2 separate regions of the Homo sapiens genome follow, and region 2 is linked to region 1. The links come from fine-mapping of genetic effects on gene expression. A gene starts in region 1. The other region holds a variant in brackets. All regions are shown on one strand. Distances are between the middles of the regions. Region 1 holds the start of ARHGAP35 (Rho GTPase activating protein 35). Region 2 overlaps ARHGAP35 (Rho GTPase activating protein 35).

Region 1 (8,328 bases):
CCTCCCGTTCCTGCCTCGTGATTGGCTGCCCTTGGGCCAATGGCTGAAGAGTCCACCGCTCTGCCAGCCCCCGCGGCAATCCTCCAGCTGCAGCTTCCCCTGTTCGGTTTGCAGGCGGCGCTGTGGGCTCACTGACTCCTCCGTCACACGCAGACCTGGTCCCCACCCTCTCTGATTCTTTCAGACTCTTAGGAATGAATAGAGTGTATACCCCAGAGTCCCACCCTCTTTACAAAATCCTTTTGTGAATTTTTCTGCCTGTGCAGGTTTCCAATACAGGTCCAGAATCCCACGCCCGCCTCTTATCAACCAACACCAGCGGCTCTCCCGTTAATGTGACCTCCAGCCATTCGGCCCGTAGGCCGATGCTTGGGAAATCTTGACAGCGGCCCAAGCCGGCAGTCGGCACTTCTCTCGGTCGGTTAATTGTTTACTCGTTTGTTTATTTATCCTGGAGTGGAGGCTAGCCGGGTGCGCGGAGGCGGCTGCCCCCAGGGAAGCCCGCTTCCTGTGGTTGGCTTGCTCAACTACTATCCGCCCTCTTGCGCACTGGAAAAAATTGCAGAGCTGGGAATGCACCCCTTGATGGTTCCGTTCATGCAGTAAAACAATGCCTGGGCCCCTGCCTTGTGCCTGGATCCGTGCTAGGGACATCGACGATGACTGAAACAGCCCTGGCCCTGCCCTCAGGGGCCTTGCAGTCCGATGGGAAAGACCTATCACCAGATATGGACCACCCAAGGTGGCCAGGGCTTGGACGGGAGACCTAAAGGGACTGTGGGAGCTTGGAAGGAGCAGCTGACCCAGCCTGTTGCATCAGAGAAGGCCTCCTGGAAGAGGGGACATCTGAGCTAGCATCTCAAAGAAGGCTAGAAGGACAACCATGTAGTCTCTGGCTACCATGTCCCCAGTGCCTACCACCCCCTTGTTTAGCATTGGATTTTTTTTTTTTTTTTTTTTTTTTTTTTTGAGACGGAGTCTCCTTCTGTCACCCAGGCTGGAGTGCAGTGGTGCGATTTTGGCTCACTGCAATCTCCATCTCCCGGGTTCAAGCGATTCTCCTGCTTCAGCCTCCCTAGTAGCTGGGATTATAGGCGTGCACCACTATGCCTGGCTGATTTTTGTACGTTTTGTAGAGACAGGGTTTCGCCACGTTGTCCAGGCTGGTTTCGAACTCCTGGCCTCAAGCAATCCACCCGCCTCAGCCTTCCAAAGTGCTGGGATTACAGGCCTGAGCTACTGTGCCTGGCCGACTCATTCACTTTTATTTATTAACAAGTTTTAATTGTGGGTCATTGGCCAGACTTTGGAACTAGCCAGGGTCCCCTGCCTTCAGAGGGCTCACACATAAAATGGTGATACCAACACAGAACTTCATTTAATCTTTTTAGAGACAGGGTCTGGCCTTGTGGCCCAGGCTGGAGTGCAGTGGCACAATCATAGCTCACTGAAGCCTTGAACTCCTGGGCTTAAGTGATCTTTCTTCCTCAGTCTCCTAAAGTGCTGGGATCCAACACAGAACTGCAAACCTTGAACCCTGAAGAAATGCTACGTGTAGCAACGTGACCCAATTGTCTGGGTTTGTGTCTCAAACCTGCTGCTTACTAGCTGTGTAACTTTTCTGTACCTTATAACTTACTCATAAGGTTGTTGTGAGGATTCAGTGAGTTAATGGGTCTAAAGTGCTTTTAGACTGCTGCCTGGCATGTCCAGGCATGGCGGCTCATGCCTGTAAACTCAGCGTTTTGGGAGGCTGAGGCAGGAGGCCTGCTTGAGGCCAGGAGTTTGAGACCACCCTGGGCAACATAGCAAGACTCCATCTCTACCAAAAGAAAAAAAAAATTGGCCAAGTGTCATGGTGAGAGCATGTAGTTCCAGCTGCTCAGGAGGATTGCTTGAGCCCAGGAAGTTGAGGCTGCAGTGAGCCATGACTGGTCCACTGCACTCCAGCCTGGGCAACAGAGCAAGACCCTGTCTCAAAAAAAAAAAAAAAATCCACACACAAAAAAAAACAAATAAAAAGAATGTTGACTAGCCTGGCCAACATAGTGAAACCCCGTCTCTATTAAAAATACAAAAATTTGCCAGGTGTGGTGGCACACACCTGTAGTCCCAGCTACTCGGGAGGCTGAGGCAGAAAAATCGCTTGAACCTGGGAGGTGGAGGTTGCAGTGAGCCGAGACCTCGCCATTGCACTCCAACTTGGATGCCAGAGTGAGACTCCATCTCAAAAAACAAACAAACAAACAAACAAAAAAGACTGTTGCGGCCAGGCTCAGTGGCTCACACCTGTAATCCCAGCACTTTGGGAGGCTGAGGTGGGTGGATGGCTTGAGGCCAGGACTTCGGGACCAGCCTGGCCCGAACAGGTGAAACCCTGTCCCTACTAAAAATACAAAAATTAGCCAGATGTGGCGCCTGTAGTCCCAGCTACTCAGGAGGCTGAGGCAGAAGAATCACTTGAACCCGGGAGGTGGAGGTTGCAGTGAGCCGAGATCACACCACTGCACTCCAGCCTGGGTGACAGAACAAGACTCTGTCTTGAGAAAACAACAAAAACAAAAATTAGCGGGGCGCACGCTGGTAATCCCAGACTCTGCCTCAAAATAAAAAATAAAAATAAAAAAAGACTGTTGCTTGGCACGAAGTACTCATTTTTATTATTAAAGAACGAGGGATCAGGCCAAATCTGGGAGACTACCCTGAGAAGGTGACTTCAAGCTGAGAGTTGAAGGGTAAATCAGAGCTGATGGGCTCCCAAGGGGTTTGGGGGATCCAGAGTGAGCCCAAGCGTCCTTGTTCTCCAGATGCTGCCAGCTCACAAATTTAAGATTGAAAAGACTCGGAACACTGCATAGGCGTTGTAAAGACATTAATTTGAAATACAGGTATCAGGAATTCACTGCCCCCCACCTTGTCTTTCCTGTGTCTCCTCAAGTAATCTCAAAAGTCCCTTACACATCACGGTTTGTAATGACAGTCCACGCACTCGATTTGGCAGCCCCGCAGTGCTTAAAGAAAAGTTGTTGTTGTTTCAAGCCACTAACATCTAAAAATCAGACTGAATGCATTAAAAGTGCCTTTTTTTTTTTTTTTTTGAGACGGAGTTTCCCTCTGCTGCCCAGGCTGGAGTCCAGTGCTATCTCTGCTCACTGCAACCTCCGCTTCCCGAGTTCAAGCGATTCTCCTGCCTCAGCCTCCCGAGTAGCTGGGATTACAGGCGCCCGTCACGACGCCCACCTCATTTTTGTATTTTTAGTAGAGACGGGGTTTCATGTTGGCCAGGCTGGTCTCGAACTCCTGACCGCAAGTGATCCGCCCGCCTCGGCCTCCCAAAGTGCTGGGATTACAGGCATGAGCCACCGCGCCTGGCCCTAAAAGTGCTACATTAAAAAAAAAAAAAAAGTCAATGGAAACATCCTTTAATATAAAAATCTTTATTAATGGAATAAACAAGCCCCTGTAATTTTATTTATCAACGCTTACAGAGCGCTTACTATGTATGCAATGCATGATTTCAAGAGCTTTGCAAAATATAATCTATTTAATTTTCACAGCAGCCCTACGAGAGAGGTACGATTATTATCCCATTTTATAGATGAAGAGACTGATGGCAGAAATGCCAAATGTAATAGGAAACAGCCTTTCTTCATGCATTCCACAAATATTGGCTCGGCGCCCGGGAAGCTCATCTTCCACGATCTGTACTTCCGGAGGAGTCCCAGAGGAACACCTCCTCAGTTCAGAGGAGTCAAGGGTTACAGCGGTGCCCTCTCCCATCACTACTCTTTTCCCTTCAGGCGCCCTAATTGACATTCGATTTGTAGCCATTTGCACAATGCTAAGTGACAGGCTTGGGCTGCACACAGGACCAGGCCGTCTTCCCTCTCCTGGGGATCAGTCGTTCACAGAACCAAAAACAAGTTGCATGGACGCGCGCGTTGGCTGCAGATTTTCTTCACAGCCAGGAGAAAGAGCACGCGCTCTCCAGCCCCGCCTCTTCTTCCGGGACGACGAATTGCGGGGCTCGGATTGGGCTGAGGCGGGCCACGCCTCCTCATATCCTCCAATCAACTCCCTCTCTGGTGCGCTCCCTCCTTCTCAGCCCCGCCCCACCGCCCCACGTTACGTCGCTCCTTCTGGCCTCCTCCGTTATCCCGGCGGCTGCGGCTCGCGCGGCAAACCCACCTCCCATTGCTTCCCATTGGCTGGTCAGGTCCCGCGCGAGCGGGATCGCGCCCTTCGCCCCCCACCCCCAAAACCGGGCCATGCCTCTCTCCTTCGGCTTTCTCCAGGAGCCAGCGCGAGGCAGTAGATCGGCTGCTTGAGACGCGCGCGCAGCTCCTGCGGACCACTCCCTCCGCCCTGCGCCAGCAGCTGCGCCGGCTGGCAGCCCCCCGCGCACGCGCGCTCGCCCATCCCGCTCCCTCTGCTCGTTTGCAAGTCGCCTCGCGCTCAGTCGCGACGGCGGCCGCCGCAATAGCGGCATTTTCGGGGGCGCACGCGCACTGCACCGTCCGCGGCCGTTCCTAACCTCAGGCAGCGGCTGTGGCAGTAAGCCCCTCGGGTGCGCACGCGCTCTGACCTCTTCCCACTGCCTCGCTGGTTGTCCCTTCGCGGCGCGCGCCCAGGGGCCGTTATACCCCTGCAACGGTCCACGCGCCGCGCACGCGCAGTAGCGAGGGGGCGCGCGCGCGGGAGCGGCCGTCGCAGGAAGGAGGTGCCGCCGCTGCCGCCATTGCGAGGGAGGGAGGGAGGGAGGGAGTGAGCGAGGCTGGTCCGCCCTCCCCCTGGTTGCCGCCCCTCCCCCCTTCCCCTCCCCGCCCCCCGCCCCGAGGGAGAGCCGCGGCGCGGCGGCAGGAGGAGGTGGAGGAGGCGGAGGAGGGAACCCGCGAGGGAGGGTCCGCCCGGCCCCCCGCCGCCGGAGCCGCCGCCGCCGCCTCAGCCGCCGCTGGACTAGGAGCAGGGGAACATGGCGCCGGGGCCCCCGTCGTTGCTGCCGGGATTTTGGAGGCCGGGGCCGCGCTGAGGGCGCCCAGCTGGTGAGTGCGCGAGCTCACGGGCCCCGGGCGGCGAGGCCGGGCGCCGCCCCGCTGCGGGGTCCAGGGGGAGGCGGGGACGGCGGGGCCCGGAGCCCGCGAACAATGGAGGAGCTGGAGGGGGAGGGGAGGAGCGGCCCCCCCCCCAGCCCCCCGGGCCCCGCCGTCCCCGTCGCTTCGCGCGTCGGCCCGGCCCGTGGGGCCCTCCTGCCCTTTGGACCTGCCCCTGCCCGCCCCAGCCCTGCTGTCCCCGCCGCCGCCCCCATCCCCGACCCGTTGGGATCTCGGTGTCTGCCTCGGAGCCTACCCGACTTCAGCCAACCGGTTCCCAATTCTGCGCCCCCCTTCCCCCTTCCACCCCTCCATAATGCCCTTCGCTCCTCCCGGGCTCTGCAGTGCTCCTGGGACCCATCTTCTCCTCATTGACCATTCTGCATCTCTTAATTGTGGCTCCCACTTTTGAGATCCGTGACGCTTCTCCCTCTTCTCGATTCTGCTCTCACCACCCTTCAGATCTGTCCTCGGCCCCTTCTTTGACCTACCTTCTGTGCTATTATTCCTGTCTCAGAATCTGTTGCACCCTGGGAGCTGTCCCTTTAGGACCTGCGGTTCCAACCCTTTGGAGATCCATCTGAGACCCCTGTTCGGCCAGGCACTGCTGCCCCAGGTCTTCCCCTTGGACTGAATCCCGTTCCCTCGTGGGCCCTACTACCCGCATTTCTTGTCTGCCCTCTCGCAGAGCCTGCTGCACCCCGGGATGCCCCTCGGCTGGCTTTCTGACCCTTCCGTGCCCCAGCTCATTCCCCTGATCCCCTCGGACTTGGCTGCACCGTGCTTGCCTGTTCCCCTTCTCAGCTCTTGTTCCCGTTTACCATTCAGACCCTTTCCTCTCTTCCAGACCTTTCTGCCTCTCAGCTCTGCCCCTTGCCCGACCTCAGATCTTGCTGCGCTCCCCTCACCTGCTTGCTTCTGACTCTGCCTTCCCGGGAAGCAGCCTCCTCCCCCTTCTCTGACTCTGCAGGTCTCCCATTTCTGCTATTCACTTAAATGATGTATCCCTAACTCAGACTGCCTTCAGTTTCAGCCCGTGTTCTCTTGGAGGTTTCCTCTCTTCCCCACCTCCTTTTTGGCACTCCTCTGAGCTACTGCATTCATTTGCTTCTCCTTTCTTTGGCCTGTCTCTCCTTCAGTTCTCTGCCTGAAAACTGCTTCCTGTCCCCTCTTTGCTCCAATTCCTCTCCTCCCCGTTTTAGCCCTTAGACATGCCCTTTAACCTCACTATACCTCTGATACCTCCCGGGCTGGTCACCCATCCCCTTCCTGTTCTGCATCTCACAGACCTGCCCCTAGATCCATTTTGTACCTACACTTTCTTCTCGTTTTTTTCAATTCTGCTCCATCCTCTTTATTTAGTGTTTCCCTCCCCAGCTCGGCTCCTTCGGAGCTGTCCACTTGCCCGCATATTTTTAGACCGGTTTTTAACTTCTGTATTGCCGTCCTTTCTTGGAGCGGTCCTTTAACACTGGGGTTCTTGTCACTGTGTCCCCTCTCTGTTCCCTCCCGAGTCTTTTAAGTTTTCCACATGACAGTCTCTTCCCCCCACCATTTTGATTCAGCCCTCACCCTTCACTCTGCTTTATTTGCCCACCCTCCACTGTTCTGCCTCTTGTCTTCTTTTGGAGTTCTCACTCCAATTGTGACATTACGATGTCTTCTTAATCATTCTTTCCTATGTATTCCCCCCCACCTTCCTCTTGGAGCTGCCTCAGTGCTGTGATAGATTATCACTCCCCTTTGATATCCCTCTCCCAATTCTGTTCCTCTTGGACTTGTTTCCTTCCTCACCTTTTTTTTTTTTTTCCTTCCCCTTGTATCCTGCCAGGCTCCTTCTCTTCCCATTTAGTTCCTATCAGACCTGCTCCTCGCAGCTCACCACCCGTGGCCCACCCATTCCCCATTGAGCACTTCCCCTTTCAGGCATATCTTTCTTTCCATCCCTCTGCTGCAGAGGCAAAGGGGCTGGATTGGGCCTTAGGCTCTCCAGGCTCTGAGACTGCAGATTCTCTCTCTGCGCCCTAACCCTGAGGGTTCTCTCCCCAGGGATCCTGAGAGATCTGGGTAAATAGGTGGGGGTTGGTTGATTGTTACTACTCTCTGGAGTCTGGGAGTGTCTCCCCCATTTCCCCCACTTCCACTAGGTTAGTAGTGTGGGGGGAGGTAGATCTTTTTCCATTGCCCCATTTTCTTTCCTCTGCTGTTTGCTCTCTCCCTTCCTATCTCTGGGCTTTGCAGCTTTGTGTCCTTTGGAAAAGGGGATTGCAGCTGCTCGCAGATCTTTATTCTCTTTCTCACTTTCCCTCCTTCCTTCTCTGAGCCATTGCATAGAGTACCCTCTCTCCCCTTCCACCTCTAAGCCAGCAACCCTAGGAGTGTCCTTCCCTTCCCCCCCGCCTTCGCCCCTCCCCCCCAGCTAACAAGTTATTTCAATATATAGTTTTACCTCTAGCTGGGGAAATGCCAGTTCTCAAATTATCCCGATCCCACCAGGGGTTATGGCCACAGTTGGACCTAGGGAAGCTACAGTATTGCCTTCCCTAATGGCCTCTGGTTTGCAGTGTGACCTTGTGGGAGGGGATGGGGAAGGTGGGCTTATTTCTTTTTCATCTTTGCCCCGGGAAAGGCTCCAGCTTCCTGGTCTTCAAAATGGTGAGGGCTTGGGTTTGGAAAGCACTTTGCGGTTGTTTGTTGAAAGAGAGAGTGCCAAATGTCACTCAGATTTCTGCCCTCTGGTATTGCAGGCACTCCCTGCCACAGGAGCTGAGTGCCTCTGGGCAGATCCATGCTAGATTCTGGGGCTCTTTGCCTGCCGTACAAGGGGTGTGTGGGTGGGCCCTGACATTCCTTAAGCTTTTTGAGTGACCTGATTGGGTAGAGTTAGAAAGGGGTGCCAGGAACTGGCGGATGTGATTGGATTTTTAGTCTTATTATCTGAGAAATGCGTCTTGGCTACCATTCCTGAGCGATTTTCTTTAATGACTCTATGGTTGTGGGGGGGTATTTAGTTCATTCAGGGGTAGAGGTGGTTTTTACAGAAAATCTGTCCAACCATTTTCCTTCCTTAACTTGGGAAAGGGGATCTTTTGCATGTTCTAGGTTTATTTATTTTATTTCTTAAGTAAATCAAAAGCCTGATTTTTTTCCCTGCTGTGGCCTAGGGCAATTGTATATTAAAGTAGCCATCCAACTGTGAAGGAGCATTTACTGGAAGGACTTTCTTAACTGTGCTATG
Region 2 (8,328 bases), 100 kb after region 1:
TTGTAGAAAACTACTATGGGAGGAGGGCCTAGCTTAGCAGGAGTTTTCCTTAAATATTTTATGTGTGGATGACACTGCGAGGCTTTTTCCTCAGACATCTGGAACTGGCCATCGGAGAGCTGCTCCAGGCAGTTGCTCTCTGTTGCTCTACCTCGTTGATTGACCGCTTCCTGCACATTGGACCTGTATGTATGATCCTGCACACCAGATGGGATCTGAGGAAGGCTCAGTCAGGAGTCCCTGAACCAGTTCCCACTGTTTGAAACAATGGTTTTGCACCCTGGTAGTGAAGCATTTGCTTTTGAGAACTGCAATTGCATGCCTTCTCTGACATCTGTAACAACAGGCATTCTCTTTCATCACTTTCCCACGCCCTCATTTGACCTTTACAGCATTTGGCCGTTTTTACTCATATATTGGGGATTGAGGTCACAGATGTCTCCAGTTTTGTCAAATAGGTGATATTTCTGTTTCTCATTCTCCTGGTTGCTTTTGTGTGATTCTCCAGAGGAAAAAGGGTAAAATCTTTATTCTGCTGTTTTTAAACGAAGTACAGTTAAGTAAAATAAATTTAGCATTCTGGAAAATCTCCTTTTTTAAAAAAAAATTTATTTATTTATTTGAGACAAGGTTTTACTTCACTGCCCAGACTAGAGTGCAGTGGCACAATCTCACAGCTCACTGCAACCTTGACTTCCTGGGCTCGGGTGATTCTCCCAGGTAGGGGCTACAGGCATGCACCACCACACCTGGCTACTTTTTTGTATTTTTTGTAGGATGGGGTTTTGCCATGTTGCCAGGCTGGTCTCAAACTCCTGTGCTCAAGTGATTCGGCCTCCCAAAGTGCTGGGATTACAGGTGTGAGCCACCACACCTAGCCAAAAATCTCCTTTTTTTATTTATTTTTATTTTATTTTATTATTTTTATTTTTATTTTTTTGAGACAAGAGTTTCACTCTTGTCACCCAGGCTGGAGTGCAATGACAGGATCTCTGCTCACTTGCAACCTTGGCCTCCTGGGTTCAAGCAATTCTCCTCCTTCAGCCTCCCAAGTAGCTGGGATTACAGGCACCCGCTACTACGCCCAGCTGATTTTTGTATTTTTAGTAAAGACAGGGTTTCACCATGTTGGCCAGGCTGGTCTCAAACTCCTGACCTCGGGTGATCCACCCGCCTCAGCCTCCCAAAGTGCTGGGATTACAGGCGTGAGCCACTGCACCCACCCAAAAACCTCCTTTTTTAAATGGTCTTTATATTTTGTCTACTGATGATGACTTCCTCACTACCATTGTTTTAGAAACTGCTCCTTTTGTGCCATTTAAAGGTAACTCGAAGCCAGGTGCGAGTGTGGTGGCTCCAGCCTGTAATCCCAGCATGCTGGGAGGCAGAGGGGCTAGAGGATCGCTTGAGCCTAGGAGTTCGAGACCAGCCTGGGCAACATAGCAAGACCTTGCCTCTACAAAAAAAATTTTTTTTTTTTTTTTAGTTAGCCATGCATTGTGGCACATGTCTATAGTCCCAGCTACTCAGGAGGCTAAGGTGGGAGGATTGCTTGATCCCAGGAATTCAAGGTTAGAGTGAGCTATGATTGCACCACTGTACTCCAGCCTGGGCAACAGAGCAAGACCTGTCTCACAAAAAAAAAAAAAAAAAGAAAGAAAGAAAAAAGTAACCCGATCTTGTTGAGGAATGTGTGCTTATGCCCTTTTCCGCCTTCTCTCCATTAGCCCTGGCTGTTTCTGTCTGCCTGTAATTTTATTAGCATTTCAGTCAGATCTGTCATTAGGTACCCATCTTCTTGGGTATACGTATCACTCTGCTAAGAAACAAAAGGAATACATGTCTCCTCCATGACTAGGCAGTGGGTGCCACAGGAGCCAATGTAGACCAATATAGTCATTCAGGCAGGAAGCTTATGTATGAGACGGTAGGTGATAGACCCCTAGATTCCTGTGGCTTCCTCAGGTCTTTTGTATATGAAGAATTTCATAGGTTTTCATTCTTTGGTCTACATGCAGAGAAGAGAGTTTCTTATTAGAGAACAGATTGGAGAAAAAAATAGGGCTTTTACTGTTTATTCCACGTATTTCTGTATTGTGTGAAAAGTAATTTAGCAATGAACACGTATTTTGTTAAAAAAAATTGTAGAATCGTTAGAAGTAAAAAGTAAAGTCATTTTCTCATTCTCAAAGTTACCTGCTATTAAGAGTTTAAATTGTACCTTCCAGAGCTTTCTGTATATGTGTCTACACATAATAGATATAATGTGCTGGGCTGCTTTTTATACAGATGGAGCCATGCTGAATGTGCTGTTCTATGCTTTGCTTTTTCCCACCTAAAAATGTATTGCATACATTTTCCTATAATGATGGGCATAAATCAGCCTTTGAAAAACTTGACTGGAGAGTATTTCTTTGGCTTTTTTTTTTTTTTTTCAGAGACGAAGTCTCACTCCTGTCCCCTAGGCTGGAGTGCAGTGGCGCAATCTCGGCTCACTGCAACCTCCACCTCCCGAGTTCAAGCGATTCTCCTGCCCCAGCCTCCTGAGTAGCTGGGATTACCGGCGCCTGCCACCACGCCCAGCTAATTTTTGTATTTTTAGTAGAGATGGGGTTTCACCATGTTGGCCAGGCTGGTCTCGAACTCCTGACCTCAGGTGATCCGCCCGCCTCAGCCTCCCAAAGTGCTGGGATTACAGGCATGAGCTGCCGCGCCCAGCCAACTGTATAATAATTTGTTTAATCAGTCTCCTGTTAAAAGACATCATCTCAGTCTTTTGTTAATATAGATAATACTGCATTGGCTATCTATACATGTGTAGACACATGTATACACACACATACATGTGCATGCAAATACATCTATAGGATAGATACCTCAGAATGGAATAGGCAGATGGAAGGATAGGTACATTTTATATTTTAAACAATATTGCCAAAATGCTCTCCAGTATAGCACCTCCATCAGCTGTATATTAGGGTAGTGGTAAAATGGTAATATGTTAGAATTGCAGCTGCCTTACAGTCATCCAGTCCACCTCTCCACAACATGGGTGAATCTCATGGACGCGTTGAATAAAAGAAGCCAGAAATAAAAGAATGTATACTGTATATTTTATTTCTATAAAGTAGAAAACCAGAAAACCTACCCATGCTATTAGAAATCAGGATAGTGGCCAGGTGCGGTGGCTCATGCCTGTAATCCCAGAACTTTAGGAGGCCGAGGCAGGTGGATCACCTGAGGTCAGGAGTTCAAGACCAGCCTGGCTAATATGGTGAAACCCCATCTCTACTAAAAATACAAAAATTAGCCGGGCGTGGTGGCGCACACCTGTAGTCCCAACTACTCGGGAGGCTGAGGCAGGAGAATTGCTTGAATCGGGGAGGCAGAAGTTGCAGTGAGCCGAGATTGCGCCACTGCCCTCCAGCCTGTGTGACAGAGTGAGATCCTGCCTCAAAAAAGAGAGAGAGAAAGAAAGAAAAAGAGAGAAAGAGAAAGAGAGAAAGGAAGGAAGGAAGGGAAGGGAAGGAAAGGATTGGGATAGTGGATATCCTTGGGGAGGGAGTAGAGGCTGGTAGAGGGCACAAAAGGCTTCTGGAATGCTGGGATGTTTTGTGTCTTGATCTGTGGGTGCTGTTTACACAAGTGTGGTCATTGTGTGAAAATCCATCACCGTACACTTCTCTGTAAACTTCTGAATGTGTATTATCTTTCAATAAGAGTTTGTTTTTTAAAAAAGCCTCTAGTCCCAACTCTTCCATTTTAAAGATAAGAACCCAGGAGTTGAAGAGATTCCCCACTGTCTTGCCATATGAGCAGCTCAGGGTTTCTGAGAGCCTGTGCAAGAAGCCAGAGCCCTGGCCTGCCTTGCCAAGACTGGCTAGTGATGTTGTTGGCACTTGGAAAGGCCGTGAATGTGTGACAATGTCTCTCACCTTGAGGCCCCTGAAGAATAATGGAGAGTCTCAGAGCCAGCTCATGTGTCAAATGGAATTTCTGGTTTTATAGCTTATGCTCTTGTGTTTAGGGCAGAAATTCTAGCACAAGGCCTCACACCCAGGCAGTAGACAAGGGTGGGGAAGTTTCTGATGGAGAAAAGTTCGGTTCTCTGTTACTCTGGCCAACCTCTCATTCTTTTGTTTTTGTTTTTGAAATGGAGTCTCGCTTTGTCGCCCAGGCTGGAGTGCAGTGGTGCGATCTTGGCTCATTGCAACCTCCACCTCCCAGGTTCCAGTGATTCTCCTGCCTCCTGCCTCAGCCTCCCACGTAGATGGGATTACAGGCATGCACCACCACACCCAGCTAATTTTTGTATTTTTAGTAGAGATGAGGTTTTACCATGTTGGCCAGGCTGGTCTCGAACTCCTGACCTCAGGTGATCCGCCCGCACTTGGCCAAAGTGCTGGGATCGCAGGCATGAGCCACTGCGCCCGGCCTCAACCTCTCATTCTTAGTCCTTTTTCTCACTGCATCCTCATCCTTCCCGTTTTGCTGCTGCTTCCTACTCCTTTTCAGGCTAGCCTATTTCAGAAAATTTTATCTTTTTTAGTAAAATTATTTGCTCAGAATAAAAATAAAGCAGATTTCTGTTTCATTCTTCCTGGGCCTGCTTTGGGAGGGTGGTGAGTGGTGAACTCCAAGGAATTGTTTGCATGGTGTGCTACCCTGATGGGAGATTCTCAGCGTCCAGGATTCCTTTACTTTTCTGTGGGGGTTCTATCTGGAAACCTTATGTGACTCAGGGCATAGTATGATTTTGAGCACTTCCTGTGGTCAAAAACTGTTGTCTTTGATTGGAAATTATGCTGTGTTCTGAGTGCTTGCTGGCACGCACACACTGTTGACTGCTTGTTCTGGTAGCACATCTGCGTGGGGTGCCTTAAAAGTGGGCACTCTCTCAGCAGAAAATTCCCATGTGGGACCTCAGTTCAAGCCCCTCCTCACTTTCATCACTTTCTTCTCTTTTGCTTCCCTTCCTCTGTGCCTTCACTCCTCCACACTGGCCTCAGCAAATCCCATCTATTTTCCAAGCCCCATCTGAAAGCGTGCCTCTTCTCTGATGACCATCCTTGTTGGAGCTGACTTTGCCGTCCCTCCTGTGGACAT[C/G]CATGCCAGTTGTCTGTGTCATCTGTTTAGCAGTCATCTGGTCCTAACTTTTAGCTTATCTTTTATTATATCTAAGTGTGATCTAACTTTTCACCTTTATCTTGTCTCCCTGTCACCTCGAAAGAGGACACGACAGTGCTGTTAATTTTTCTATCTCCCATGGGACTTAATCGGTGTCCTCCACGTAGTATGCTTTAATAATGGTTTATTGCTGTGATACTGCTTCACAAATGCCAGCAGATGCCATGCTGTATCATCAGAGATGAGATTATTTTATTTATTTATTTTTAATTTTTTTATTTTTTGAGATGGAATCTTGCTCTGTCACCCAGGCTGGAGTGCAGTGGCGCAATCTCGGCTCACTGCAATGTCCGCCTCCCAGGTTCAAGCAATTCTCCTGCCTCAGCCTCCCGAGTAGCTGGGATTACAGGTGAGTGCTACTACCCCCAGCTAATTTTTATATTTTTAGTAGAGACGGGGTTTCACCATGTTGGCCAAGCTGGTCTTGAACTCCTGACCTCAGGTGATCCACCCGCCTCAGCCTCCTGAAGTGCTGGGATTACAGGCATGAGCCACCGGACTCATTATTATATGAGTCATTATTATATGCCCAGACAAGATTATTATAAATTTAAATTTAAATTTGTAATTTATTTTGTGAACCTGAGCAGGTGACTTTTTTTTTTCTTTTCTTTTCTTTTTGAGACAGGATCTTGCTCTATCACCCAGGCTGGAGCGCTGCAGTGGCGTGATCATGGCTCACTGCAGCCTTGACTGCTTGGGCTCAAGTGATCCTCCCGAGTAGCTGGGACCACAGGCATGCACCACCAAGCTTGGCAACTTTTTAAAATATGTTTCGTAGAGATGGGGTCTCACCATGTTGCCCAAGCTGGTCTTGAACTCCTGAGCTCAAGTGATCCTCCCACATCAGCCTCCTAAAGTGGTGGGATTACAGGTGTGAGCCAGCATGCGCAGCCAGTGGCATCATTCTTTAAGTCTACTTTTACTCCATAAGCCAATCTCCCATTGAAAAACTGACAAAAATAATTCTCAACTTTCAACTGGTTTCAGCTGACCCTCTGAATGTGGGATAATATTTGCTTGATAGGGCAGTTTCAGTTCAGCAGAAGGGCTGGTGTGGCTCATTGGAGCTTATGGAAGGGGGTTCTACCAGGGTAATAAGGTCAATATGTGAATCCTTTGATAAAAAAGAAATGGGCACAAGCCAACATGGACCCAGAGAGAGAATAAAAGTCTTAAAAACTTGCAGAAATGAACAGTCCTGGTAGGTCTTTGGTAGCCTGTCCAAATACAGAGCATGGATCTAAAGTGATTTCTTTCCCTTCATATGTTTATTCAGTTATCATAGTACTACCTTTTGATAGCCTTCCCCTATATTTTGTGACAATTACTTTATCAAATATTCAGTTCTTAAAATTGAGTCTTTTTAGGCCAGGCGCGGTGGCTCACGCCTGTAATCCCAGCGCTTTGGGAGGCCGAGGCGGGCGGATCACCTGAGGTCAGGAGTTTGAGACCAGCCTGGCCAACATGGTGAAACCCCGTCTCTACTAAAAATACAAAAATTAGCCGGGCGTGGTGACAGGTGCCTGTAATCCCAGCTACTCAGGAGGCTGAAGCAGGAGAATCGCTGGAACCCAGGAGGCAGAGGTTGCAGTGAGCCGAGATTGCGCCATTGCACTCCAGCCTGGAGGACAAGAGCGAGACTTCATCTCAAAAAAAAAGAGTCTTTTCTAAGATTTCTTTTGTTTTACTGATTTTACTTTCTTGTTTTTATACCAAAATCATGTTTCCTAAATTTTTACTCTCAAAAGTGCTTTAATAGCTGGTAAAATTCAACTTTTTCTCTGGGTCTTTTTCTTGGGTTTTTTGTTTGTTTGTTTGTTTGTTTGTTTGTTTGTTTTGAGACAGGGTCTCACTTTGTCACCTAGGCTGGTGTGCCGTGGCACAGTCATGGCTCATTGCAGCCTCGATCTCCCAGGCTCAAGTAATCCTCCCACCTCAGCCTCCCAAGTAGCTGGAACTTCAGGTGCACACCACCATGCTCAGCTAATTCTTGTATTTTTTGTAGAGATGGGGTTTCGCCATGTTGCCCAGGCTGATCTCCAACTCCTGCGCTCAAGTGACTCTCCTGCCTCAGCCTCCCAAAGTGCTGGGATTACAGGCGTGAACTGCTGCACTCGGCCTGGATTAATCTTTTTCAACTCCATGTTTCATTCCCATAATTGCTGTCTTTGCCAGAATATTCTTTAGCCTCACAATGTTTAGTTTTTACAATCCTAAAAGAATAATTGAACACCTGTTATGTGTCAGTTCCATTAGATGCTGGAGGCTAAAATATGAATAAGATAGTTCATATTGCCCCCTAGAAGGACTCTTAGTCTTCTCTGGTCAAAACCAAGTCAATAAAGGAAGTATTAGTTGGAAACCCTCAGTCTCCCCAGCCTCAATACCTAGCTTCACTTGTACATCCAGCAGCCCCTGGGGTCTACTTTGCAACCTTCCAGTTTGCCATATGTGATATTTTCTATTGGATCTTTTAAAGATATTTTTGGTATTTTTTTCTTTCTTTGCAAAATATTTATACGATTTTTGGTATTATTTTATTTAGTGCATTTTAACCATTCCATTGAGATTTTTATTTTATTTATATACAAAATGCAATTGAGGCCAGGCGCAGTGGCTCATGCCTGTAATCCCAACACTTTGGGAAGCTGAAGCAGGAGGATTGCTTGAACCCAGGAATTCAAGACCAGCCCCAGCAACATATCGAGACTCTGTCTCTACAAAAAATTAGAAAATTAATCAGGTGTGCTGGTGCATACCTGTAGTCCTGGCTGATTGGGAGACTGAGGCAGGAGAATCACTTGAGCGTGGGAGGTTGAAGCCATGGTGAGCCATGGTTGCACCACTGTACTCCAGCCTGAGTAACAAAGCAAGACCCTGTCCCCCACCCCCAAAAAATGCAATTGAACATCTTTGTAATGTATGGTCCTTCATTTCAAAGTCATGACACCTCTCTGCTTTTTTTCCTCTTCTCTTTTTTCTTGTGTAGTCATTACAGTTGTTTGTCTTACTTTCTAGGGTTGATGGGATGGAGTGAGTGTAATAAGTTAGTCTATAATAATATTTCTGGCCTATCAAGTACAAGGCATTTTTGAAGCCAAGAAGATCCTGAGGAAGCCTGAGGCCAGCCCCCATTGG

The links. PIP is the estimated chance that this variant, and not a neighbour inherited with it, causes the effect.
Region 2: its variant is fine-mapped to the expression of ARHGAP35 in whole blood (TOPMed, PIP above 0.99).

Annotation. Positions count from the first base shown.
Region 1 is chr19:46,856,168-46,864,495 of GRCh38, forward strand. It overlaps ARHGAP35 (Rho GTPase activating protein 35), which reads left to right and starts at 4,830. Exons shown (of 7, transcript NM_004491.5): 1 at 4,830-5,042. It overlaps LOC124904791 (translation initiation factor IF-2-like), which reads right to left. Exons shown (of 4, transcript XM_047439803.1): 2 at 6,955-7,041; 3 at 4,890-5,153; 4 at 3,422-4,729. The coding sequence ends at 4,058. RefSeq lists enhancers at 1-114, 115-1,051 and a silencer at 4,599-5,138.
Region 2 is chr19:46,958,475-46,966,802 of GRCh38, forward strand. The region is part of intron 3 of ARHGAP35 (Rho GTPase activating protein 35); the gene reads left to right. Among named protein-coding and RNA genes, the nearest start is that of NPAS1, 57 kb to the right of the region's middle. RefSeq lists an enhancer at 4,438-5,637. The variant C/G (reference allele first, on the strand shown) is at 5,107.